Linked DNA regions of Homo sapiens: regions 1, 2, 3 and 5 are each linked to region 4. Evidence: fine-mapped expression QTL. A gene starts in region 4. Each other region holds a variant in brackets. All regions are shown on one strand. Distances are from middle to middle.

Region 1 (5,104 bases), 120 kb before region 4:
ATGTTTTCTGTCTCCTGTCGGAGGCAAGCTCCCCTTTCTACTGTGTTCCTCCTCACATCTTCTATACCTCATGCCCCCTCATATCTCACAGCTTTAGCATTTTTGCCCTCTCTCTTGCATCATCAGCAACTCTCCAGGGGGCTATCCATGTCAGCATACACATATGCCGTGACGTTGCCCATCTTTAAAATCAGAATAAGCTTCAGCAAACAACTTTTCCCTGACCCTCCTCTATCCCTTTCTATTTACCTACATGGTTAAGTCTCTCAAAAGAGAAGTTTACGTGCCTTCCCTACCTCCTCTATAGTACGTACCACCCTCTGAAATTCTGTTGTTTAATAATTTTTGTGTGACTTACCCCTAATAGAAGGTCAGCTCCAGGAAGGCAAGGACCTCATCTGTCCTGTTTACCACTCTGTCCCCTAGGACAGCAGGTGGCACAAGTGTCTACTCAGTACATGGGCAAAAGAGGCACAACTGACCTGGTAAAATAGCTTTTGATTTTTAAAAATTTCTAACAAGAGAATCCATGTTTTTTAATTACTCACCATTTTTTGCTACACTTAAGAATTGAAACAATTATGAAGAATATATTAATGATCAAATTTTGCCCTATGTTACATTTCATTCTTTCATAAGTATGACTTAATATTGGCAGTCTTGGGCCGGGCATGGTGGCTTATGCCTGTAATCCCAGCACTTTGGGAGGTCAAGGCGGGTGGATCATGAGGTCAGGAGTTCAAGACCAGCCTGGCCAAGATGGTGAAACCCCATCTTACTAAAAATACAACAAATTAGCCGGGTGTGGTGGCGGGTGCCTGTAATCCCAGTTACTCGGGAGGCTGAGACAGAGAATTGCTTGAACCTGGGAGGTGGAGGTTGCAGTGAGCCAAGATTGTGCCATTGCACTCCAGCCTGGGTGACAGAGCGAGACTCTGTCTCAAAAAAAAATATATATATATATAATATATATAAATAATATATATATAATATATAATATGTATAATATATATATTATATTATATTATATATTATACATATTATATATTATATATTATATATATTATACATATTATATATTATATATAATATATATATTATACATATTACATATATAATATATATATTATATATATAATATATATATTATACATATTACATGTATAATATATATATTATATATATAATATATATATATATTTGCAGTCTTGCACCTGGACTCTGGCATCAGACTGCTTGGAGTTGAATTCCAGCTCTTTCACTTTTTGCTATGTGACCTCCAGCAGGTTTCCTAACCTCTCTCTTTCTTCATTTGTAATGTGGTTAATAATAGTTCCTACCTCATGTGTTTGTTTTGTGTTCCAAATGAGATAATATGTAAAACACGAAACTCAGTACTCGTCTTGGGAGTAAACTCAATGAAAAATAATAGTAATTATTATAGCCTCCTCCAGTTTATAATATTTGACTCTGACTTGGTCTCTATAATATTTTTGTTCAAAATACTATATCTCCTAGGGTATATGGGCTATCAATATGATGATTCAGCTGTTCTTGGTTTTGTGGGGGGCGGGGGTGTGTTTGTTTTTAAGAGAGAGAGTCTTGTTCTGTCGCCCAGGCTGCAGTGCAGTGGTGTGATCTCCAACTCACTGCAGCCTTAACCTCCAGGGCTCAAACAATCCTCCCACCTCAACCTCCCAAGTAGCTGCGACCACAGGCACACACCAGCATGCCAGGCTAATTTTTTTTCTTTTTTTTTTTTTTTTTTTGTAGAGACAGGGTCTCACTATGTTGCCCAGGCTGGTCTCAAACTCCTGGGCTCAAGTGACCCTACCAGCACCTCCCAAAGTGCTAGGATTACAGGCAGGAGCCACCATGCCCAGCCAATAAATCATTTTGATCACTTGATAAAATATTTTTATTTCAAGCCAAGTCCTGTTCTTTGTTTATTTGGTTTTCTCAGAGGTGAGGTTCTTTCTTCATGTTATTCCACATTAAGTTTTCTTATTTCTGGAAATGGAGCTTTAAAAACACCCAATATATCATCAACAGATTTTTTTTTCTTTTGAAACAGCTATAAGACAATGTTCTTTTCATCTACTAGCTAGCTGGGAGGGTAAATATATGTAGCAGTACGAAGTATATTCTGAGGACCACATAAAAAATACAGACAGGCTCTGTAGAAGTTCAGGCTAGGGAGAGTCAGGTACTTCTAACCCTAAGGGATTCCTACAGCTTTTCTGCATGTTAAATAGTCTGTTTTAGCTTATTCTCTTATTACTTGTCTTGGTTTTTACTTTGAAAGTTTGCTTAATAATCATGGGAATATTTTAGATTTTAAAATACAAAATATACAAGCTAAACTTGAGAGCAGTTTTTAGTTGTAGAAACTGTTTCTTGAAGTAATTGACTTAGCGTTTGCTCTGCCTCTTTCTTTTCTTACCTAGGTAGGTAGTGGGGACTCCTTCAATTATCTGAGCAATTCAAATCTCAGAATGTAGTGTTGGGTAAATTGAGGGTTCTAAAAGAATGCCAGATGGTTTGAAAGGAACTGTGAGCATTCCAACTAGTGCAGTCCTTTGAAAGCCAGCTGGCAGAGCCTCCTGTGCTTTGGAGGTAGGAACCAGACACTTTGTTCCATGCCAGCTGGCCCAAGAATAGCTGGCCAGTGGCCTTGCTTTTGGCTGGCCACTCTTGGGAAAGCTGGCCTGGGCCCTCCATGTGCCCTAAGGATAGTCTGATACCAGAGAGTTGCACTGGCCCTCCATAGTACCCCAGGGAGTTGGAGAAAGCCTGCAGTGGCAAGGGAAAGGAAACTGCTATTTAGATAATGTTACAAGTGAACCTCGTGTTACAAATTTGCTCTGGAAATTTAATGTAATTTGAA[T/A]TTTTATGGATTCACTACTGTTAGGTGTATTAAAGTTGCAATGAACTGTAGTGAATGTTTTTATATTGTAAGTAACTTCCAGGTTACCTGCTTTTAAAGTTCCTGTTTTTATTTGTCAACTTTTCTTAAAGTGAGGTTTGCCCGTTCCTTTTGTTGTCATCTTCTAAAGTTTTGATCATTTGAATTAGGAAAATTTTTCCATCTTGTTGTAAAGCTTGCTCCTGTGTAAACCATAGACTTTTTTTTTTTTTTGAGACAGAGACTTGCTCTGTCACCCAGGCTGGAGTGCAGTGGTGCTCTTTCTGCTCACCGCAACCTCTGCCTCCTGGGTTCAAGCGATTCTTCTGCCTCAGCCTCCCAAGTAGCTAGGATTACAGGCATGCGCCACCACACTCAGCTAATTTTTGTATTTTTAGTAGAGACAGGGTTTCACCATGTTGGCCAGGCTGGTCTTGACCTCAGGTGTTCTACCCGCCTCAGCCTCCTAGAGTGCGGGGATTACAAATGTGAGCCACCACACCTAGCCATAAACCATAGATTCTATAGAAGGTTAATTATGTATGTAGTCTTAGCTTGTCTCTCATTTTGATGGTACTTATGTTTTCCCGATTAGACAGGTGCTTGTATCAGATACAGTTCTTCACTTCCTTTAGCAGATTTAATATCATAATTGTTTAATTGACAGCAAAATAAGTGCAAATATCATACTGTAAGAATAATGAGCATTCAGTTCATTTGATGACAGTGTTTATTGAATTCTCAAAATTAATAGTTTCACTGCTGTCTATCAGTATGCTTTATGTTGCCTTAATTTTTTTTTCAAATGTGCAGATTGAATGGTGCTGCAGTATCTGTTAAGTTTATTAAGTTCATCTTGGCAAACCAAAAAAAAATTATAGCTACCTGTATCTCTTTATTGTTCCTTCCCAAATCTGAGCATGTGAAATTATGCTCAGTGATATAAATTTGAAATAGAACCTAAATATTATATCTAAATAGTCTCTTTATCTTGGACTGAATGAAAAAAGTTGACAGATAATGAAACGTCAAATTATGAGTTAATGTAGTTTGTGGGAAATGGGTGGGAAGGGAAATCAAAGGTGTAGGCTTTCATTCATTTTCTTCAGCATGAAACAAGTTGCAAAACTTCTTCAGAAATGTGTTGGAAATCTCATGCATGGCTATAATTAAATAAAGGCTTTTACTCAAACTTGTCGATTATCTCTGTAAACAGGGCAGATGGAATTTTCGGCGTAGTAAGATTTTTTTTTTCTTAAATCACAGAACAGTATATCAATAGCCAGGGGCAATATTATACTCAGAAAATCATCTTTCATATTGGTTAACCTACACTAAAAAGCTTTTATGCCAGTAGCTTTAAATATATTGCCTATTTACTGCTTACAGCAATCCTCAAAGAGTTGTTTATGGATGACAAACTAAATGTCAAAGAAGTAACCTGTTCAGGTTTACAAGTTCAGGGTCCAGTTTTGAACCTAGGCCTTCATCCTCTAGAGCCCACCACCTGTCACAGTGGATGTTATCAACTTTTCACAAGAATACAGTCTCTTTACTATTCAGATGTTATCCTGTACTGGCACCTCTGGAGGGCTATTGATAATGGAAGTGCAGAGATCTTTGCAGATAATAGCAGGAGAATAAGAAGAGATTTGGGGTAGGGGGCAGAATCTATATTTTTTAAATCTCTTCTGATGCTCCTGCAGAGCTACTGCAGTAAATAAAAATGACTTGTCAGAATCAGATGGAGCAAAGGGGGTTTATTAGTTTCTTAACATTGCTGTAACACAATTACTATAAACTTCGTGGCTTTAAACAACAGAAAGTTGTTCTTTCACAGTTCTGGAGGTAGAAGTCCAAAATCAAGGTGTCAGCAGGGTTGCTGTGCTCCCTCCAAAGACTCTAGAGGGGAATCCTTCCTTGCCTCCTCCAGGTTTTGGTGATTCCACACATTCTAGTCTCTGCTTCTGTCTTCATATGGTCTTCTCTTTCTCTCTTATAAAGACACTTGCCATTGGATCTAGAATCCATTCAGATAATCCAAAATGCTCTCATCTCCAGATCCTTAAATTATATCTGCAAAGACCCTTTTTTTTTTCTTAAATAAAGTCGGTTCAAATAAAGTCACATTCACCGATTCCTTGTGTTAAGAAATGGACATATCTTTTTGAGGGCCACCATTCAATCCACTCAAGAGAG
Region 2 (5,104 bases), 110 kb before region 4:
AGAAGGGATGTGAAGGAGGCCCTGGATTCTTAGAAAATGATTACACAAAAAGAAAAATTCTGGGCCGGGCGTGGTGGTTCACGCCTGTAATCCCAGCACTTTGGTAGGCCGAGGTGGGTAGATCACGAGATCAGGAGTTCAAGACCAGCCTGTCCCAGATGGTGAAACCCTGTCTCTACAAAAATACAAAAAAATTAGCCGGGCGCCGTGGCAGGCGCCTATAATCCCAGCTACTCAGAAGGCTGAGGCAGGAGAATCACTTGAACCCGGGCGGCAGAGGTTGCAGTGTTCTGAGATCGCGCCACTGCACCCCAGCTTGGGTGACAGAGTGAGACTGTCTCAGAAAAGAAAAAAGAAAAGAAAAAGAAAAATTCAAAGCATTCAGTTCAGAATGCAGCTGTGACTTCTGTTTTCTGTGTCTTCATTTTCTCTATTTCAATTCACTACCACCATCCATTTAGAACACCAGAATTATATAAAAGCGTGACACAGTTCTAAGGGGAGTAAATGGACAGCTGCATTCCTAAAGTTTTTTTTAAAAATGTATTATATAAAAACTGTATTTTATCTACTGTTGATTTCCAGTGAAATAACCTACTTCAGGAAACTATATTATATAGCTGTCTGGTCATATCTGAGGAAAAAATGATATTTTCCATATAATTTATTCTGTTTCTAAATAATCAACTGCCATGACTTTTTTCATTGATCCTTTTGTTTTCTACCTGAGATTAATATTACTTAATAGACTTACCTACACTATTTTTTCAGACTTTTCTGCTAGTGAGGTTCTTCTTTTAAATTTTTTTATTATGGCCCTGTGCCTATCAGTGGGATTCAACAATTAACAAGGTTTTGCCACATTTGTTTCATTTATCCTTTATCTTTTACCTTTCTTTGCTGAGGTTTTGTTTTGTTTTGTTTTTTTGTTTTTTGTTTGTTTTTGAGACGGAGTCTTGCTCTGTTGCCCAGGCTGGAGTGCAGTGGCACCATCTTGGCTCACTGCAAGCTCCGCCTCCTGGGTTCACGCCATTCTCCTGCCTCAGCCTCCAGAGTAGCTGGGACTACAGGCGCCCACCACCACGCCGGGCTAATTTTTTTATATTTTTAGTAGAGACGGGGTTTCACTGTGTTAGCCAAGATGGTCTCGATCTCCTGACCTCGTGATCCACCCACCTCGGCCTCCCAAAGTGCTGGGATTACAGGCATGAGCCACCACGCCCGGCTAATTTTTGTATTTTTGGTAGAGATGGGGTTTCATGATGTGGCCCAGGCTAGTCTCGATCTCCTGACCTCCTGATCTGCCTGCCTCGGCCTCCCAAAGTGGTGGGATTATGGGTGTCAGCCACCGCGCCCGGCCCTGTTTTTTTTTGTTTGTTTTTTTAAGAGGCAGGGTCTCACTGTCGCCCAGGCTAGAGTGCAGTGGTGCAATCTTAGCTTACCACAGCCTCAACTTCCAGGCTCAAGCAATCTCTCCACCTCAGCCTTCTGAGTAGCTGGGACTACAGGCACATGTCACCATGCCCAGCTGTTTATTTATTAATTTTTTTTAAGTTTTATAGAGATGAGGTCTTACTCTCTTGCCTAGGCTGGTCTTGAACTCCTAGGTTCAAGCGATCCTTCCACCTTGGCCTGCCAAAGTGCTGGGCTACGGGCGTGATTCACCATGCTGGCCTGAAACTTTGTTCTTTGGTGACCACAAATCTTACACATTCTGCTTTCTTTCCTCTACCAGAAATAAGGGTGATTTTTGTCTTTTAAGTAATATTTCAATTATTTCATCCAATATGTGTTTTGGATTTACAATCTTACCTTTATTCATATCAATAACTATTTTATGTGCCTCATATTCAGCCTGAATTTACAGAAAGCTACATTTGTGGTAAGAAGCACTTGATGAATAACCCCACTACATTTTATTGTTTTAGTTCACTTCTGAGTTTATTAGATCTGATATCATTTTAATATTTTTTCAGGCATTTTACATATGATCTGACTTAAAAGTTCCTGTAATTTGAAAAAAACTGGCTCTTCATGAGGTTTTTTGTTTGTTTGTTTGTTTTTGAGATGGAGTCTCACTCTGTCACCTGGGCTGGAGTGCAGTGGCATGATCTCAGCTCGCTGCAACCTCTGCCTCCCGGGTTCAAGCAATTATCCTGCCTCAGACTCCCAAGTAGCTGGGACTACAGGTGCACGCCACCACGCCCGGCTAATTTTTTGTATTTTAGTAGAGACAGGGTTTCACTGTGTTGCCCAGGCTGGTCTCGAACTCCTGAGCTCAGGTAACCTGCCTGCCTCGGCCTCCCAAAGTGCTAGGATTACAGGCATGAGCCACTGCGCCTGGCCACATATATTTTTGCATAGTAAGTTCCAAGTAAATTTCCATAAAGGTAAAAAAGAAGCAGGGTGATATACAGAAAAGCGTGTGGGATTCAAGTAAGTTTTGACCCTATTATTTGTTACCTATTTGGCCTTGGTGAATCACTATTTAGCCTCAAAATGGGGATAATTATCATTGAATATTCCAGTTATTGTGAGTGTAGTTTATCTCCTTAGCTCTCCTAATGATTATTGTTATTAAGCAAGGAATAACAACAAACAATTTTTGCTACATCTCAGTTCCCCTCTTTTTATAAATATGAGTTCAGTTATGCAGCCAGCTTAGCCTGGCTGCTGAACTGTGGCTGGTCAGAAGTTCCATTTCGGTGGATGTCAGATGATGTAAAAATTGTAACTGCCTAACTGTACTACATAGTTCTTAACTTTTAAGGAGATTATATATGCATTAATATAATTTTTTTTTTTGAGACAGAGTTTCACTCTTGTTGCCCAGGCTGGAGTGCAATGGCTTCATCTCAGCTCACTGCAGCCTCCACCTCCCAGGTTCAAGCAATTTTCCTGCCTCAGCCTCCCAAGTAGCTGGGATTACAGGCATGCGCCACCACACCTGGCTAATTTTTTGTATCTTTAGTAGAGACAGGGTTTCACCATGTTGGCCAGGCTGGTTTCAAACTCCTGACCTCAGGTGACCCACCCACCTCGGCCTCCCAAAGTGCTGGGATCACAGGCTTGAGCCACCACATCTGGCCATTAAAATACC[G/A]TTTTTGATGATTGTTTTAGGCAATTCTCTTTTGCCTTTTTTTAACAGCTTTATTGAGACATAATTTATATCCCATATAGTTTGCTCAAAGTGTACAATTCAGTGGCTTTTAGAATATTAGAGTTTTCTGTCTATCACCACAATCAATTTTAGAACATTTTAGTTATCATTATTCCAAAAAGAATGGCCTTCGCTCCTCAGTCCCCTCATTCTCCCCGCTCCTCCCCCTTCCCTTGCTCTAAGCAACTACCAATCTACTTTCTATTTCTATAGATTTGCTTATTCTGGGCCTCTTATATAAATAGGATTTTAAAAATGTATCCTTTATGACTGGCTTTTTTCACTTAATATGATGTTTTCAAGGTTCATCCATGTTCTTTTTTATCTTAAGGCTCTTAGAGATATACTGACTTATCCTGAAGGAAGAAAAGATGAAGTGACTTTTTTTGTTTGTTTGTTTGTTTTGTTTTGTTTTGAGACAGAGTTTCGCCTCTCGTTGCCCATGCAGGAGTACAATGGCATGATCTCGGCTCACTGCAACCTCCGCCTCCTGGGTTCAAGTGATTCTCCTGCCTCAGCCTCCTGAGTAGCTGGGATTACAGGCATGCGCCACCACGCCCAGCTAATTTTGTATTTTTGGTAGAGATGGGGTTTCTCCATGTTGGCCATGCTGGTCTCAAACTCCTGACCTCAGCTGATCCGCCCGCCTCGGCCTCCCAATGTGCTGGAATTACAGGCGTGAGCCACTGCACCCGGCCGTGACTTTTTTTAAACAAAGAAAATTGACTAGTGTTTCATGAGTCTTCAGTCACAAATGACGAGAAAAGCCCTATAAACGGTTACTGTAGCTATAGACCTAAGAATGGTGTTCTAGTGTAGAATGTGGAAAAGATTCATGTCCCATCATTCCTTTTAGCTGCATTTGTATATATGAATAATGTCATGGTTGTTAGTGAATCTTTCAGTACAAAGGATAATAATGTGCAACTCTATAGGACTGTTGTAACTAAAACTGTTGCAACACTCTCACTTTTATTTGCTGTTCTCTTGTAACTAATTTTCCAGCTGACTATCCTGCATAACTCAGACATTCTTATATGATATCTATGGTTACATGCTACATTTTTGTTTTTTGTTTTGTTTTGTTTTTTGAGACAGAGTCTTGCTCTGTCACCCAGGCCTGAGTGCAGTGGCCTGATCTTGGCTCACTGCAACCCCCACCTTGCGGGTTCAAACGGTTCTTCTGCCTCAGCCTCCTGAGTAGCTGGGGTTACAGGTGCACACCACCACGCCCGGCTAATTTTTGTATTTTTAGTAGAGATGGGGTTTTGCCATGATGACCATGCTGGTCTTGACCTCCTGACCTCAGATGATCCACCCGCCTTGACCCCCAAAGTCCTGGGATTACAGGTGTGAGCCACCACACCCAGTCACGTGTTACATTATTTATTTTTTTTAATTTAATTTTATTTTTTGAGACGGAATCTCGCTCTGTCACCCAGGCTAGAGTACAATGGCGTGATCTTGGCTCACTGCAACCACCGCCTCCTGGGTTCAAGCAATTCTCCTGCCTTAGACTCCTGAGTAGCTGGGATTACAGGCACACGCCACCACGCCCGGCTAATTTTTTTTTTTTTTTTTTTTTTTTTTTTTTTTGAGATAGAGTCTCGCTCTGTTGCCCAGGCTGGCGTGCAGTGTTGCAATCTCGGCTCACTGCAACCTCCACCTCTCGGGTTCAAGTGATTCTCCAGCCTCAGCCTCCCAAGTAGCTGGGACTACGGGCATGTCCCACCATGCCTGGCTAATTTTTGTATTTTTAGTAGAGACGGGGTTTCACCATACTGGTCAGGCTGGTCTCAAACTCGTGACCTCAGGTGATCCACCCACCTTGGCCTCCCAAAGTGCTGGGATTACAGGCGTGAGCCACAACGCCCAGCCTAATTTTTGTATTTTTAGTAGAGACGGGGTTTCACCTTGTTGGTCAGGTTGCTCTCGAACTCCTGA
Region 3 (5,104 bases), 37 kb before region 4:
GGAGTAGGGGCACAGACTTGTGCCTCGCTTCCCAGCAGCTGCCCAGTGCCTCTGTCCACACCCACCTCCCTGGTGTACTTGCCCCCTACAGCAGCAGCCCAGATCCTCCCCTGGATTAAAATTGCAACTGGTGCCCTAACCCAAAACTTGAGAAAAAATTCTCTATCACATCCACTCTTCTGGCATTTGTAGAATCTCTGGCCCTGGGTGTGTCTTTTCCTGTAGCTGTTACAGATTTCTTAAGCAGATTTCTTAAGCAGATGGACATGTCCAGATTCATGCCTAAATATCCAGTTGATAACTGGAAAATGCTGGTTCACGGTTCTTTAGTAAAGATTAATAAGGGATCCCCATGTGCTGGGGAGTGTGCTTCCATTTGAGTGGGGATATCAGAAGAAAAAGAGGGGCTTGTGTAGTAAACCTTACTTTGCCAATTCAGCTGTAGAGCCCAAATTGTTACAAGATGCAAAGATGTACTCCACTTTTTGACCAAGCATCAGCACCTTTGGCTTACCATCCAGTCCTTACTTCTGTGACTGTAAGGGCCCCACCAGTGTCAGCAGACTTGTTTGTGCTTTGGGGGAACTCTCTTCTCAGCTCCCTTTGCCAGTCCCAAGCCTGGTGGATCTGCATCTCACGCCCACTGCACACCGTTCCTCTCCATCTGCCCTTCCCTCCCAGGCCCCCGGTCGGGGGAGCAGGTGTGGCAAGTGTTAGGAACTCCCTTCTGGTGACAGCTGGTCTTCCTAGAGTGTTGCTGGTAACTATCGCCTCTTGGTCTTCTGACATCATTGCCAGGAACGGGGCACTTTTTCGTCTTGTAGTTTGGCCCTCGGGTTTCCTCACTAGGTATTGTGTAACTCCCTCAAAAAAAGGTTTATGAAATGCTGAACCTCAGGTTTCATAGACGTCTTTGTACACTAAAAATTCTGCAGCAGAATATTTTTAAACATTCGCAGTTTTTTGTAAGCTATATTTTTGTATATTTAATTGCTATTTTAAAATTTTAATGCATTTTGCTAATCACTCCTCAAAAATAAAACATGCATGTAATTGACTCAAACGTGTAAATAAAAGCAAATTTTGAAAAATAGTGTTGTGCATATGCCTTTGAACAGAGGGAACATCCATGTGCCACTTACGCAAGCACCTTCAGCAAGACTTGGAAACTCAAGGTGAGTAATTCTATCAGAGCTGGTAACTAGTACTGAGTGATTGTGATGGAAGCCCCTGCCCTTCCTGTGGCATAGTGTGCAAGCGGGGGTGGGGTCAGTGGTGAAGAGTGTGTCAGGCCACCACAGCCAGAGAACAGAGAATCCTGGAATGCAGAGTACAGTGGAGTCTGAAGCCCCCTGGCCTCCCTGAGCTCTGCAAACAGCTGGATACAGATAAGCAGTCTTCCACGTGAACGCCAGCACCAGGGTGACCTGAAATAGCGGATTTTTTTTTTTTTTTTTTTTTGAGACAGTCTTGCTGTCACCCAGGCTGGAGTGCAGTGCAGCAATCTCGGCTCACTGCAGCAACCTCTGCCTCCCAGGTTCAAGCAACTGTCTGCCTCAGCCTCTCGAGTACCTGGGATTACAGGCACGCACCACCATTCCCGGCTAATTATTTTTGTATTTTCAGTAGAGACGGGGTTTCACCATGTTGTCCAGGCTGGTCTTGAACTCCTGACCTCAGGTGATCCACCCGCCTTGGCCTTCCAAAGTGCTGGGATTACAGGCATGAGCCATTGCACCTGGCCAAAGTAGTGGAACTGAGCCTGTTTCCTCCACAGGCCACACCACCCTGCAAAGAGTTGCCCCCACCCCAAGCCCCTAGCTATATCCCAGGCCTGGAAATAACTAGTGTCAGGAGAAAAAACGTCCAAAGCCTTCCTGTGTGGCCGTTGCTGCTCTCCTCACCACCCCTCACTAGGACCGAGTGGCTTCCCAGCTTCCATCAAGGCCAGCCACGATCTTGCAACCAATTGTGGGCAACCTCAATTCAGATGCCTAGAGAGCTCCTCTTCTCAGTCCCCTGAGCCACAGGCCCCTGGCCAGCCTCTCCCTGAGCAGTCGTTTTCTTTGCAGCTTCCTCCGTCACTGCTCAACTCTCGGTTATTTTTCTCACCCTACCTTAGAACTCATGAAATCCCCCTTGCTTTGCCCACCTACATGCATATCATTCTCAGCTCTGTATCTCCAACCCAAATACCCAGTGCTTATTTGGAGTCTCAAAATCACGTAGTCCACAAATGAGCCCAGGTGCCCTCTTGTATCTCTCCTCCCTCCCCTGTATCCAGTCACCACTTCCCAACACAGCCCTCTAAGCATCTCTCCATTCTGGCCATCCACTTCTCCCCTCTCCATTCTGGCCACCCACCTCCCATCTTAGTTCAGGCCTTCCTTTCTCACCTGGACCACGGTCACAGCCCCCTTCATGGCCACTAGTGGAGGGCAGACTGAAAGGGACAGCTGCTAAGACAGGGAAGTGGCAATGGTAACAGCAGAGTTTATGGGCACCTCACAACCTGAAGGTGGTGAGACGGCAGTAAGCTGGGATGAGGATGTGGGCACTGCTGCACAGAGATCAACAAATGCAGAGAGAAGGCAGTGTCTCGGGGCTGGAGCTCAGAGGTAAGGGGTGGTTGAAGTGTTCCCTGGAAATCAGTCAAGGTGATGCTAATGACTGCTTGGGGAGACCCAGGACTGAGGCTGAGGACAGCCACAGCTAACTGTCAGCAGAGAATGAACCAGAACATTAGTAGCCTGGGTGGCAGGACAGGCAAGAGGGCTCTGCTGAGTGAGAACTGAGATGAGGCTGTGAAATGAATGCCAGATTCGGTGGCATGGGATTCACTGGTGGCCTATCAAGAACCCTGCTGTGAGCCGGGCGCAGGGGCTCACACCTGTATTCCCAGCACTTTGGGAGGCCAAGGCAGGCGGATCACCTGGGGTCTGGAGTTCGAGACCAGCCTGGCCATCATGG[T/C]GAAACCCCATCTCTACTAAAAATATAAAAATTAGCCAGCCATGGTGGCACATGCCTGTAGTCTCAGCTACGCAGGAGGCTAAGGCAGGAGAATTGCTTGAGCCTGGAAGGCAGAGGTTGCAGTGAGCTGAGATCGCCCCACTGCACTCCACCTGGGTGACACAGCGAGACTGTCTCAAAAACCCTGCTGTGGAGTGACAGGGTTTACTGAGCACAAGGTGGAACATGAGGGAATGGACTAGTTTCTCTAGAGTAGGGGGAGGGCCCACGGAGGAGGAAGCTCAAAGCGAGGCAGAAGGGGACATCAACAGCGTCTTCCCAACTCAGGCACCAGAGACAGACAGTCCCGGGTTTGAGTCCAGCTCTACTCTTTTCCAGCTGAGTGACCCTGGGCAGCCTTACTCATCCGTTCAGTTTCCTTTTCTGTTAAATTGTGGGAACAGCAAGGGCTGCATGGTGACCCACGTCGAGCAGTGGACAACCTCCTGAACGCAGCACAGCAGAGGCAGCAGGACCACAAAACAGGGGCCTCAGAGGGGCAGGCCCTGGCCTCGGTCTCCATGGGAAGTGAGCAAGTTCACAGGAGTTGGCCCAGGGAGCAGCACCCTGTGGTACAAGCAGGAGGATGGTGGTGCCATCTTTGGTGCCTGGGTACTGGAGGAGGGTGAGGCCACCAACAGCGCTGCTGGCAGCAGAGGAGGGCAGAGGAACTCAGGATCAGGGCGTCAGAGGTAGTATAGGCCAGGAGCCTGCAAACAGCAGCAGCAGGGAAGAGGGTCACCAATCACTCTCCAGGGGACAAAATTACCCTCCACGCAGCAGCCATCCTGCTCTGCACCCACACAAGGTCCCAATGCAGCAGCACCCATATTTCCTAAGTGCCAAGGCCCATGTGCAGAGGTGGCCACGCCTAGTGGAACAGCCCACAGCCCACATATCAGTTCCCCTTGCCCCAGCTGGAACACGGGTGTCTCTGCTGCCTCCATGCGGCTGGCACCCTGCCCATCCCTCCCTGACCACAGCCTTAAACGGAGGGGAGCAGGGAGGCTGCAGAGCCTTGGGGTTTTCCCTCCTGGTCCAAGGCTGCTTTGTACAGGCCCATCCTTGCCTTCAACAGCAATATGGGCACCACTTAAGACCTCAGATATAAAAGGTGCATTCTCTCCTTGGGAAAGGCTTTTGAAATTATTCTGCAAAGCAGAAAGAAAAGCTTCAGCCCCTACCAAGAGCACCTGCAGCCTGGCACTCTCCTCAGGCAGTCTTCTGAGACTCACCTCCCAAGTGCCACAGTGCCCTGAAGGACCCCCCACTCCCCATGAGTTCTTTGACAGACACTTCAGTTCTTCCTTTTCTACTTAGCCTGAAAGAAAAACCAGATTCTCCCTGATCCCCTGAGGGGGTGTCAATTCTAGTGGCCCTGCTGACTCATGTTAGTCCTCCAGATTGTGCTGCTTCTGCCAGTGTACCCACTTGCATCAGAACAGTCCGCCCACTACCCAAGGAAATTCTGCCAAGAAAAGAAGCCCTGTCTCTCCAGACATTCATTCCCAGGATTTAGTGTAAAGTAACGTGGAACTGCCCTTCCAAAAACTGCTTGTTAAGTTTCAGGTACACAATTAACCTGCCCAATTAATTTTGCAGAACCTTGAAATAAAACATGTTTTACAGTAAGTTCACACACAGGCTTAATGCAAACCAGAGTAATGCACAGATGATTGCCAAGACCATATTGACAAATTGTGATTAGATTATAACGCATAGTAGCCTGCCTTACATTCAGCAAGTTCAAACAGGACACAAAACCAGTCAACTGAACACAGAGCAGCTCTCTTCAGAAGCACTTCCAATGAGTGATGCAGAGATTTCAAAAATACAAAGCAGGCAACTTATATACAGCAAATCCTCACACTGCCTGGACATGTGCCACTTTTTTGTTGTTTTTAATATATTTTTCCTTCCTGGTTGCTAATTTAGACTGAATTCTTAAGGATTTATCTTGATGACTTAGAAAAATACACCTGTCCTTTCTCACTTTGTTTCAGGTAGTACAGTCATGAAATTGAGTAAGTCTCTTAAAAAAATGAAAGTCCACAGATCCCATTGTGGAAGGTTTCAGGAACCCCTCCCCAGGTAA
Region 4 (5,104 bases):
GCCACGAGGCTAATGAGTTACCAAAGCTCTTAGTAGACGACTGCCAGGTCGGGCACAATGGCTCCCGTCTATATCCCAGCACTTTGGGAGGCCGAAGTGGGAAGATCGCTTGAGACCAGGAGGAATTCAAGACCAGCCTGGGCAACATAAGAGATCCCATCTCTATTTAAAAAAATAAAAATTGAAAAATTAGCCTGGCATAGTGGCACGTGCCTTTAGTCCCAGCAATGCAGGAGGTTGAAGCAGGAGGATGGCTTGAGCCCAGGAGGTTAAGGCCACAATGAGCCATGATCATGCCACTGCACTTCAGCCTGGGCAACAGAACAAGACGCTGTCTCAAAGTAAAAAACAAAAAACAAACCAAAAAAACCCTTGTGGCTAATGGCTATACTCTTATTTGCTGAATCTTTGGAATTTACATCCATTTCCAACGATGTAATACAAAACCATGAAGGATCTCATATTTTGCATTGCTTCAAACTCAGGTGCTTCTCAAATAAAACAAAACTAGGTGACTGACTCTGAAAATGGCACAGGTTAAGAATCTGTTTTCCAAATCTGTTGCAAGAAGATGGAAAAAGACAAAAGAACTGAAAACTCCCAAACTTTTCACAGCAAAATAGAACTACATTTAATCATCCATATCAGAGAAGATTCAAAAAAGCAGTTGGGTGACTGGGCTAAGGTAGAAGACTATTCAATAAAAATCTCACATCTTGCCATTTTCCCTCCCTCTCACAATCTGCATTTAAACAAGTCAATTTCCTGAAATAGGAATCTGGCAACACCCACCAAAAAGTCCAACCATATGTAAAATGGCATCACACTGTAAAGCTCATATTACAGTATCAGGACAATTGATACTTTCAACAGCAGCAATGGCTGCCAGGCAGCGGTCCTGAATTGAAGACTTGTAAAGGGGAGAAAATACACAACACAGAAAAAGAAACCTAATAAAATGGGGAAACGGATTCTCTGGGAGGAGCGTATGCAACTCCCAAGGCAAAATTCAGAAAGATGTTGTTTCCCCTCAAAACAAAGAGCCTTAATGCCCAGAATGCCACAGTTCTGAATCGTGAGTACCTGCAAATAGACAGAAGGAAAACGGAGGGGATATGTGGGTGAGAGATGACCTGGATTCTCACGAGAAGAAGGGCAGCCACCTTAGAGGTGCACGGAATACAGTTTCAGGCCTGGTGCAACTCAAGGGGCAGTTCACCATTTTCCAGTAAGCCCGAAATTGACGAATAAAAGGGACTTAAAGTATTAGAGAGCAGCTCTTTGGAAACCCACGGAAAACAAACATTGGGGATTCAAAGGATTTGGGAGGAAAGGAGGTGGAAATGAGTCAAAAGAAGCCTTCTCGAGGATAAAATCATGTGACCCTCAGGAAGAGAATGCCCAAGGAGCTAAGAAAAGGGAGGACAGGTCCTGGGGAAAAGCCCTCCACTCCAACAAGCGGGAAGTGCATACCAATGGGTGCGGGGGGGCCCCCGAAGGTACCGCTTTCGGAGCACCCGAGGCCTCCAGCCGGATGTCAGGCCACGCACCAACGAGGGACCACCGTGCGGGGACAGTGTCCGCGCGCGGGAAAAACGGCGGCGGGGCCGGAAGGGGACAGGGTGGGCCGGAAGGGGGGGCAGGGCGGGCCGGGAGGGCGCCCCACGGAACACTTACGCGGCCGCTTTTTCCTCAGGCTTTCGACGCGCTGGCGGGAGACCGAGGTGGGGCCGCTGTAAGAGCCCAGTCGATCCCGCCTCGTGCCCTCAGCCGAGGCCCCGACCGCGGGCACCGACGCGCTGCTCGCCCGGCGCCGCAGTGGCTCCTGCCGCCGCCCTTCGGGGTCCCCGGCCGCCTGCTCCCCAGCCGACGAGACGGAGGTGGCGGAAGCCCTGCCGTGGCGCTCCATGGGCGCGCCGAGCCGGCCCCCTCCCATCCGCAGCAGCAGTCGCTGCCGCCCGAGCAAGCCCCCCAGCGTCGGATTCCTTCTCGCCTCCTCCGCGGCAGTCCAGCCAGAGCAGAGGCGCGCCCTCGGCCGGCCGCCTCTTCCGTTGCGCCAACGCGCAGGAAGCCAATCCGACGAGGCTGGGGACGGCCCAAAGGCCTCGCGTCCAGTCGGCTCCCTAACTCGAGGAGGATTGACCGTGCCTCCGTCCAATGAGAGGCTATCGTGACGGGGCGGGGAGAGGGTGGTGGAGGAGGGGATCCGGGTTCCGCGGAGGAAGAGAAGGCGGTGTAGCCCAGAAGAGAGTGATGGCGGCGCCGCCCAATGGACGCGTGGGTGGAAGGGCCCGAGCCTCCTCATCCACCCCCTCCTTCCGCCCCCCACTTGTGCATGCCTCTGCCCCCCCGGGCCGCGGAACTCTCCTGGGGCGACCCCGAGTCCCACCCCGCTGCTCCGTGCCGTCCTCGCAGCTCGAGCCCTCCTCCAGCCCAGCAGTGCTCCCGCAGCGTCTGGCCGCTGGTCGTCGGCAGACGAAAGGGCTTGAACCGCGGCTGACCTTAGCCTTTGTCCCTCGGCCTAGTTCCGCAGCTGCCGTCGAGGCCGCCAGCCCCTCCCCCAGCATGTTTGGGCTAAGCCGCCTCCTTTCCGCCTGCGTTGGAGAGAGAGGTACCAGAAGGAATGAAAGGACTGGGGCTTGTCTCCATGGCAACTGAAAGAAAGAGGTGGGTTATAAATCCTTCGCCACCCTCCTGTGGCGAAGGAGGGGAAGTGGGAGCCGGGAAGTAGAGTTGGCCTTTTGCAGGAGAGTCTGGAGCCCCTTTCTGGGTGATGCATTGGGGGCCATAGAAGGATTTGGCTGCCGCTTTGGAGCATGGATTTTTTTTTTAATCATCTTCCTTTCTCTTTTGGAGAGAAAAATTGGTCACCTCCAGGACTGAGACCCTGACCCTTCCAAGCATCCCCACTACCAAAGGCTGCCCAAGCCCGGAAGGATCCCATCCCGTTCTGTACTCTGAGGTCACTTCCTCACTCCGTCAAATTTCACTGGACTGTGGGCTAATTAAAAGTGCCTCCGTATTAGCGGGGCGTGGTGGCCCATGCCTATAATCCCAGCTACTTGGGAAGCTGAGGCAGGAAAATTGCTTGAACCCGGGTGGCGGAGGCTGCAGTGACCCAACATTGTGCAACAAGAGCGAAACTCCGTCTCAAAAAAAATAAAAAATAAAAAAGAGTGCCTCCCTGGGGAGACTGTAATGCCCACTGGGCAGTGATCCTAATGCCCCTTGGGCAGTGATCCTTATTCCCCTCTCCCATAATGATTGGTTGTAGCAGGCTGAACAAAAAGGTTGAGCTTCGCTTGTGCTTGCTGAATAGAATTCTCACGCCCACTCCACGTTAGCTCCCCTCACTGTAGGACTAGCTCTGAAAATTCTAGCTCCTGTAGGAAGCCAACACAGACGGATCTACAAGAACCAAAAACAGCTATAGCTACTCTTCTAAATCTCAGTGCCTGACATTGCCTCTCTTTCTGCCTCCTCTCTCCACCCCCCAAAAAATGTGGTCCTCCTTGACCTGAGGGAGCTTCCGTCCAAGTCTGAGCTCTGATCATCCTGAAGAATCAAAGTATCATCATCCCTTGGCTGGCAAGATGAACTCCAACATCAAAACACTTGAAACAGTAGTATTTTTACACAATTTGCCCACTGCCTCTACATCTCACTTAGTCCTTGCAGTAACATTTGGATGATGAGGTAACTTATCCAGAAGCACAAAGCCTAAAGAATGACAGAGCTTGGACTCCTGAGAAGTTCAGCTACTGCCCGCCTTATGATAACCAAAAGAAAGCGGCCGGGCGCAGTGGCTCAACTCCTGTAATCCCAGCACTTTGGGAGGCCGAGGCGTGCGAATCACAAGGTCAGGAGTCCGAGACCAGCCTGGCCAACACAGGGAAACCCCGTCTCTACTAAAAAAAACAAACACAAAAATTAGTTGGGCGTGGTGGTGGGCACCTGTAATCCCAGCTACTTGGGAGGCTGAGGCAGGAGAGTCACTTGAATCCGGTAGGCGGAGGTTGCAGTGAGCCGAGATCGTGCCACTGCACTCCAGCCTGGGAGACAGTGAGACTCCGTCTCTAAAAAAAAATGAATAAATAAATAAGAAGGCACACCACAAGTTCGAGACCACTTCTACAAAAAATAAAAAATAAAAAAAATTAGGCCAGGCACAGTGGCTCATGCCTGTAATCCAAGCACTTTGGGAGGCTGAGGCGGGCGGATCACTGGAGGTCAGGAGTTTCAGACCAGCCTGGCCCAACATGGTGAAACCCTGTCTCTACTAAAAATACAAAACTTAGCTGGGCGTAGTGGTGCGTGCCTGTAATCCCACTTACTCCAGAAGCTGAGGCAGAAGAACTGCTTGAACCTGGGATGCAGAGGTTGCAGTGAGCTGAGATTGCACCACTGCACTCCAGCCTGGGCAACAGAGTGGGACTCTGCCTCAAAAAAAAAAAAAAAAAGAAAATGAAGATGACCAAATGGGCTTCTAGATGGCTAATGATATTCTGTTTCTTTGATCTGGGTGGGGGTTACATGGGTGTGTTCCCTTTGTAATATGTTATCAAGACATTTTGTGCACTTTTTTGGGTATTATACTGAAAGAAAACATTTATTTTTTAAAAAGTTGAAAAATTGCCTTGGAGCAGAGTAAGGTAAATCTATGATTAAGCTTAGATTTTTTTATTTTTTATTTTTTATTTTTTTTCAAAAAAAATGAGGCCAGGCGCGGTGGCTCACGCCTGTAATCCCAGCACGTTGGGAGGCCGAGGTGGGCAGATCACGAGGTCAGGAGGTCGAGACCATCCTGGCTAACACGGTGAAATCCCATCTCTACTAAAAATACAAAAAATTAGCCAGGCATGGTGGCAGGCACCTGTAGTCCCAGCTACTCGGGAGGCTGAGGCAGGAGAATGGCATGAACCTGGGAGGCAGAGCTTGCAGTGAGCCAAGGTCACGCCACTGCACTCCAGCCTGGGTGACAGAGCAAGACTCGTCTCAAAAAAAAAAAAAAAAGTAAAATGAACCTAACAAGAGGCATCCTTTCTCTGTGGTTATTATAGTGAGAACTAAGTTCTTTATCACTCTCCGGTTATTTACCCCTAGA
Region 5 (5,104 bases), 22 kb before region 4:
AGGCGGCAGATCACCTGAGTTCGAGACCTGCCCGGCCAACATGGAGAAATCCTTTCCCTACTAAAAAATACAAAATTAGCCAGGCTTGGTGGCGCATGCCTGTAATCCCAGCTACTCAGGAGGCTGAGGCAGGAGAATTGCTTGAACCTGGGAGGTGGGGGTTGTGGTGAGCCGAGATCACGCCATTGCACTCCAGCCTGGGCAAAAAGAGTAAAACGCCGTCTCAGAAAAAAGAAATATTATTTGGCAATAAAAAGGAATAAAGTACTGATTCACACTGTAATGTGAATGTTTGAAAACATATGCTATATGAAGAAGTAATCACAAAAGATCATATACTGTATGATACCACTTATATGAAATGTTCAGAAGAGGCAAACCTACATTGAAAATAAATTACTGTTTGGCAGGGGCTGTGGGGGGAATGGAGAGTCGTAGCTAATGAACACAAGGTTTCTTTCTAGGATGATAAAAATGTCCTAAAATTGGGATTACAGTGATGGTTGCACAATCCTGTAAATATACTAGAAACCACTAAATTGTACGCTTCAAACAGCTGACTTTATAGTACGTAAATTATATCTCAATAGAGCTTTTTTAAAAAATATGCCCAATATTATTATTTTATGTCTTTTTTTTTTTTTTTTTTTTTTTTGAGACAGAGTCTCACTCCGTTACCTAGGCTGGAGCTCACCGCACCCTCCACCTCCAGGGTTCAAGTGATTCTCCTGCCTCAGCCTCCCAAGTACCTGGGTCTACAGGCGCGCACCACCATGCCTAGCTAATTTTTGTATTTTTAGTAGAGACAGGGTTACACTATGTTGGCCAGGCTGGTCTCAAACTCCTGACCTCATGATCTGCCCATCTCGGCCTCTCAAAGTTTTGGGATTAAAGGCATGAGCCACCGCGCCCGGCCCGCCTGTATTTCTTAGAACACACATGCCCCCTTACCTTGAAGCCACAGCCCAGCCTGGCAGTCCAAACCTCTCATAGTCCCCTCCATAAATATCTCGTACTAGTTTATCCACTTTGGTGCTATCTCCACGAGATGCCATTTCAAGAGCTTCTTCAAAAGTGGTACAGCCAGTAAGAAGACAGCAGAGACCAAAAAAAGTTCCTCCTCCAAGACTATGATTAAAAACAATTAACACAGTATTATAACATTTTTAAAAATAAGAACAAGAAGTTAACATTTATGAACCCCAAAACCATATTCACATATCCAACCCAATCATGCAAATGCCACTGGTAGGAAACAAGTCTGTGAAAAGATAAGGTGCCTGATATACACCTTTAAGGTACATATGCATGTGAGCCAACATGCAAAGTACAAAACACAGGGCCCATGTCCCCAGTGCAGTCTGGCTGTCTGCCAAGTATGAAGAGCCTCAGGTGCAAATTAGCCTGACACGCCTGGGGCCATGCTAACACCTCCTCCCTTTCCCTTCTCCAAGTACATTCCCTGAGTCATTCTCATCCAAGCACCTTGTCACCCTGGCTTATCAGTACACCCCCAAACATACTCCTCCTGCAACGTGTTTTGTCACAAAAAAATTACTCCTCTATTTAAATCACAACTGTTTTTTTAAAAAAATTGTTTATCCCAATCCCTAGATGCCTGTTTTTCCTGAAGTGACCTCTGACCCTTAAGCCGAAACATTCTCTTCTTCCATCTAATCCTCATTTTTTTTTTTTGAGATGGAGTTTAGCTCTTTTTGCCCAGGCTAGAGTACAATGGCACGATCTCGGCTCACCGCAACCTTTGCCTCCTGGTTCAAGTGATTTTTCTGCCTCAGCCTCCCAAGTATATGGGATTACAGGCATGTGCCACCACGCCCGGCTAATTTTGTATTTTTAGTAGAGATGGGGTTTCTCCATGTTGGCCAGGCTGGTCTCGAACTCCCGACCTCTGGTGATCCACCCGCCTCGGCCTCCCAAAGTGCTGGGATTACAGGCATAAGCTGCCGTGCCTGGCCCTAATACTCTCTTTTCTTTTTTTTTTGAGACGGAGTCTCACTCTGTCACCCAGGCTGGAGTGCAGTGGCATAATCTCGGCTTACTGCAACCTCCACCCTCTGAATTCAAGCAATTCTCCCACCTCAGCCTCCCGAGTAGCTGGGATTCACAGGCGCCTGCCACTGCGCCCGGCTAATTTTTGTATTTTTAGTAGAGATGGGGTTTCACCATGTTGGCCAGGCTGGTCTTGAACTCCTGACCTCATGATCCACCCGCCCCAGCCTCCCAAAGTGCTGGGATTACAGGCATGAGCCACCACGCCCGGCTAATCCTCTCTTTTCATACTACCTTCCCTCAATAATTTTTCTACTGATCAGTACATATCAACTTCTAAATCACATACATAGAATACATCATTATTCTACACACAC[A/G]TGTGTGTGGAAGCATGAAATTTACACAGGTTTCAGAGCTAGGTCCTTTCCCGTGCCTTCTCCTTACAGATGCTGCCTAATAACTTTAGCTACTTTGTGTATGCACACCATAAACTATCTGAGGGCAAAGGCTACAATGAGTCTGCTGATGTGATCTTTTAAGAAACACCTAGGATAATAAATCTTGAACAGTAGAGATTAAAGAAAACTAGGTCATAAAATCAGAATTTTCAAAGAGAAACATTTGTTTGCATAATCCAGAAACACTTTCACCTAACAGGTTCTTGAAGGTGTAGTTACATGTAATACCTGAAAACTCAGCCCGTTAGGATACTAAGAATAAACAGTGAGTTTTATATACAACTTACCTAGTACCTGTGACCCGTTTGTAATTATCTTTGGAATATACTGCTAAGATGCTAACCCCTGAGCCAATGTTCACCAGAAGCAGAGGATACGGATTTTTCAAATCAAATGGTAACTTCTGACACTTTTCAGAATCAGCAGGGTTTTCAAAGTAATAGCACTGTGACCGTCCATTGAATCCGACTGAGTCAATGTATAAAATTCCTTTGATCAAGCAATCTAGTTCATCCAGTTTGCAAAGCTGAAGATCACCTATCTGTAATGAAATAAGAATGTACTCAGACTTTTTAATAAGCCAACAGAAACAAAAATTCCATTCAATAAGGCATCCCCACTACGTGAAACAACCATGAAAGTGCACTCACAGATGTGTATTATTTGTGCATGCTTTACAGAACAGATTTAGGAGCAAACCTAGGGACACAGTGCTGAGACAGACTCCTGCTACTACAGACCCAAATACACTCTACATAGAAACTACTGCAGCAGCTGAATAAGTGTGACCAAAAAAAAAACAAAAAAAACAAAAAAAAAAAACCACAGCATTTATCAACCTTCAAACAGAAATTCAGATCTCTGCTTACAGGGACAATGGGGCTGATACCAAGCTCAGGCCACAGCACTATCAGAAACCACCTTGTGACACAGGGTGGGAGCCACAAGGACTGTGACAGAGGACCATCTCAAGGCTTTGGAGCAGTATCAAAAGAGGCCACACATTATTTAACAAACTGAAGCCAAAAGGCTGAAAGTATCCAGTTAGAAGGTAAGATTTTTTTCACTATCTAAACTAGCTACAGCCTCTTGGGAGGGAGGGGAATTTTAGCAGTCAAAATTTGAACTGTTTCATAATCAATTAATTCCATTTAAATAATAAAGGAATGACTAAATTATTATTCGTATTATGGAGCACTGTATAGCAACTAAAAATGAAGAGGATCGGCCGGGCACGGTGGCTCACGCCTATAATCCCAGCACTTTGGGAGGCTGAGACAGGTGGATCACAAGGTCAGGAGTTCAAGATCAGCCTGGCCAACATGGTGAAACCCAGTCTCTACTAAAGATAAAAAAAAAAATTAGCTGGGTATGGTGGTGCACGCCTGTAAACCCAGCTACTCGGGAGGCTGAGGCAGGAGAATCTCTTGAACCCAGGAGGCAGAGGTTGCAGTGAGCTGAGATGGCACCACTGCACTCCAACCTAGGTGACAGGGCGAGACTCCGTCTCAAAACAAAACAAAAATGAAGAGGATCTTTATGTTCTGAAGTGGGAAGAACTCCAAGGCATGTTAGTCAAAAAGTTGAGGCCAGGAACGGTGGCTCACACCTGTAATTCCAACACTTTGGGAGGCCGAGGCAGGCAGATCACTTGAGGTCAGGTGTTCCAGACCAGCCTGGACAACATGGTGAAACCCCATCTCTACTAAAAGACATGCAGAATAACAGGCAGAATCTGGGCCGGGCAAGGTGACTCACCCCTGTAATCCCAGCACTTTGGGAGGCTGAAGCAGGCAGATCACCTGAGATCAGGAGTTCGAGACCAGCCTGACCAACATGGAGAAACCCTGTCTCTACTAAAAATACAAAATTAGCCGGGCGTGGTGGCACATGCCTGTAATCCCAGCTACTTGGGAGGCTGAAGCAGGAGAATCGCTTGAACCCGAGAGGTGGAGGTTGTGTTGAGCCATTGCATTCCAGCCTGGGAACAAGAACAAAACTCCATCTCAAGAAAACAAAACAAAACAAAAAGGCAGAATCTCTTTCAGACTAATATTCTCTCATTTAGCAACAGAAAAACAGTCAGTCACTGAAGACATTTTCAATCTGTATTGCACCCTGACGGTCAGGATCTTGGCTTATTCATTTGTCAGTTCTCCGGCCTACCCCCACCATCCACCCTGAAAGGACCTAGCCTCAAGGTCTTGCTCACAATGTTCTCCAGTGTTCACTCAATGAAAGCAAGATAGAGCGCCTGGCAGCATTCCCCAGGGGCCAGACATGGTGGCGAGACTCCAGTTAAGTGTGCAGCACAGAACACATCAGAAAGCATTCTGGGAGAGGAGGGCTCTGCAGTCACCCATCTCAGACCAGCCCTGAGCCTGAAAACACCACTTTTGACCAGAGTTCCTTATTTTTTTCAGTTAGTGAACATGCCAGCAAACAACTGAGGGAGACAAGAGAAATTATGTGGTAGACAAGACTGAAAACAATTTTATGACATGAAATGATTTTAATTATATTTCAATCTCATTGTTCATGATCTAATGATGTTCCTTTTAGGTAGTTTCTTCCTCAACGTATAGCAGATGCCCTAATTTTTCATACTAAAGGAGCAATAAAATGCTACCCTTTTA

Evidence for each region.
Region 1: its variant is fine-mapped to the expression of PANK2 in whole blood (TOPMed, PIP 0.93).
Region 2: its variant is fine-mapped to the expression of PANK2 in whole blood (INTERVAL, PIP above 0.99).
Region 3: its variant is fine-mapped to the expression of PANK2 in whole blood (TOPMed, PIP above 0.99).
Region 5: its variant is fine-mapped to the expression of PANK2 in whole blood (INTERVAL, PIP 0.98).

What each region holds. Positions count from the first base shown.
Region 1 is chr20:4,004,404-4,009,507 of GRCh38, reverse strand. All of the region lies in intron 1 of RNF24 (ring finger protein 24), which reads left to right. Among named protein-coding and RNA genes, the nearest start is that of RNF24, 8.6 kb to the left of the region's middle. The variant T/A (reference allele first, on the strand shown) is at 2,888.
Region 2 is chr20:3,998,227-4,003,330 of GRCh38, reverse strand. The region is part of intron 1 of RNF24 (ring finger protein 24); the gene reads left to right. Among named protein-coding and RNA genes, the nearest start is that of RNF24, 15 kb to the left of the region's middle. The variant G/A (reference allele first, on the strand shown) is at 3,101.
Region 3 is chr20:3,923,298-3,928,401 of GRCh38, reverse strand. PANK2 (pantothenate kinase 2) reads right to left here. Exons shown (of 7, transcript NM_001386393.1): 7 at 1-5,104. It overlaps RNF24 (ring finger protein 24), which reads left to right. Exons shown (of 6, transcript NM_001134337.3): 6 at 1-1,091. Among named protein-coding and RNA genes, the nearest start is that of MIR103B2, 8.3 kb to the right of the region's middle. RefSeq lists an enhancer at 2,197-2,366. The variant T/C (reference allele first, on the strand shown) is at 2,971.
Region 4 is chr20:3,886,302-3,891,405 of GRCh38, reverse strand. PANK2 (pantothenate kinase 2) reads right to left here and starts at 2,019. Exons shown (of 7, transcript NM_001386393.1): 1 at 1,678-2,019. The coding sequence starts at 1,975. It overlaps PANK2-AS1 (PANK2 antisense RNA 1), which reads left to right and starts at 2,233. Exons shown (of 2, transcript XR_001754478.3): 1 at 2,233-2,667; 2 at 2,857-5,037. RefSeq lists silencers at 1,635-2,134, 2,325-2,384 and an enhancer at 2,393-2,944.
Region 5 is chr20:3,908,482-3,913,585 of GRCh38, reverse strand. It overlaps PANK2 (pantothenate kinase 2), which reads right to left. Exons shown (of 7, transcript NM_001386393.1): 3 at 2,756-3,009; 4 at 952-1,128. Among named protein-coding and RNA genes, the nearest start is that of MIR103A2, 6.5 kb to the left of the region's middle. The variant A/G (reference allele first, on the strand shown) is at 2,388.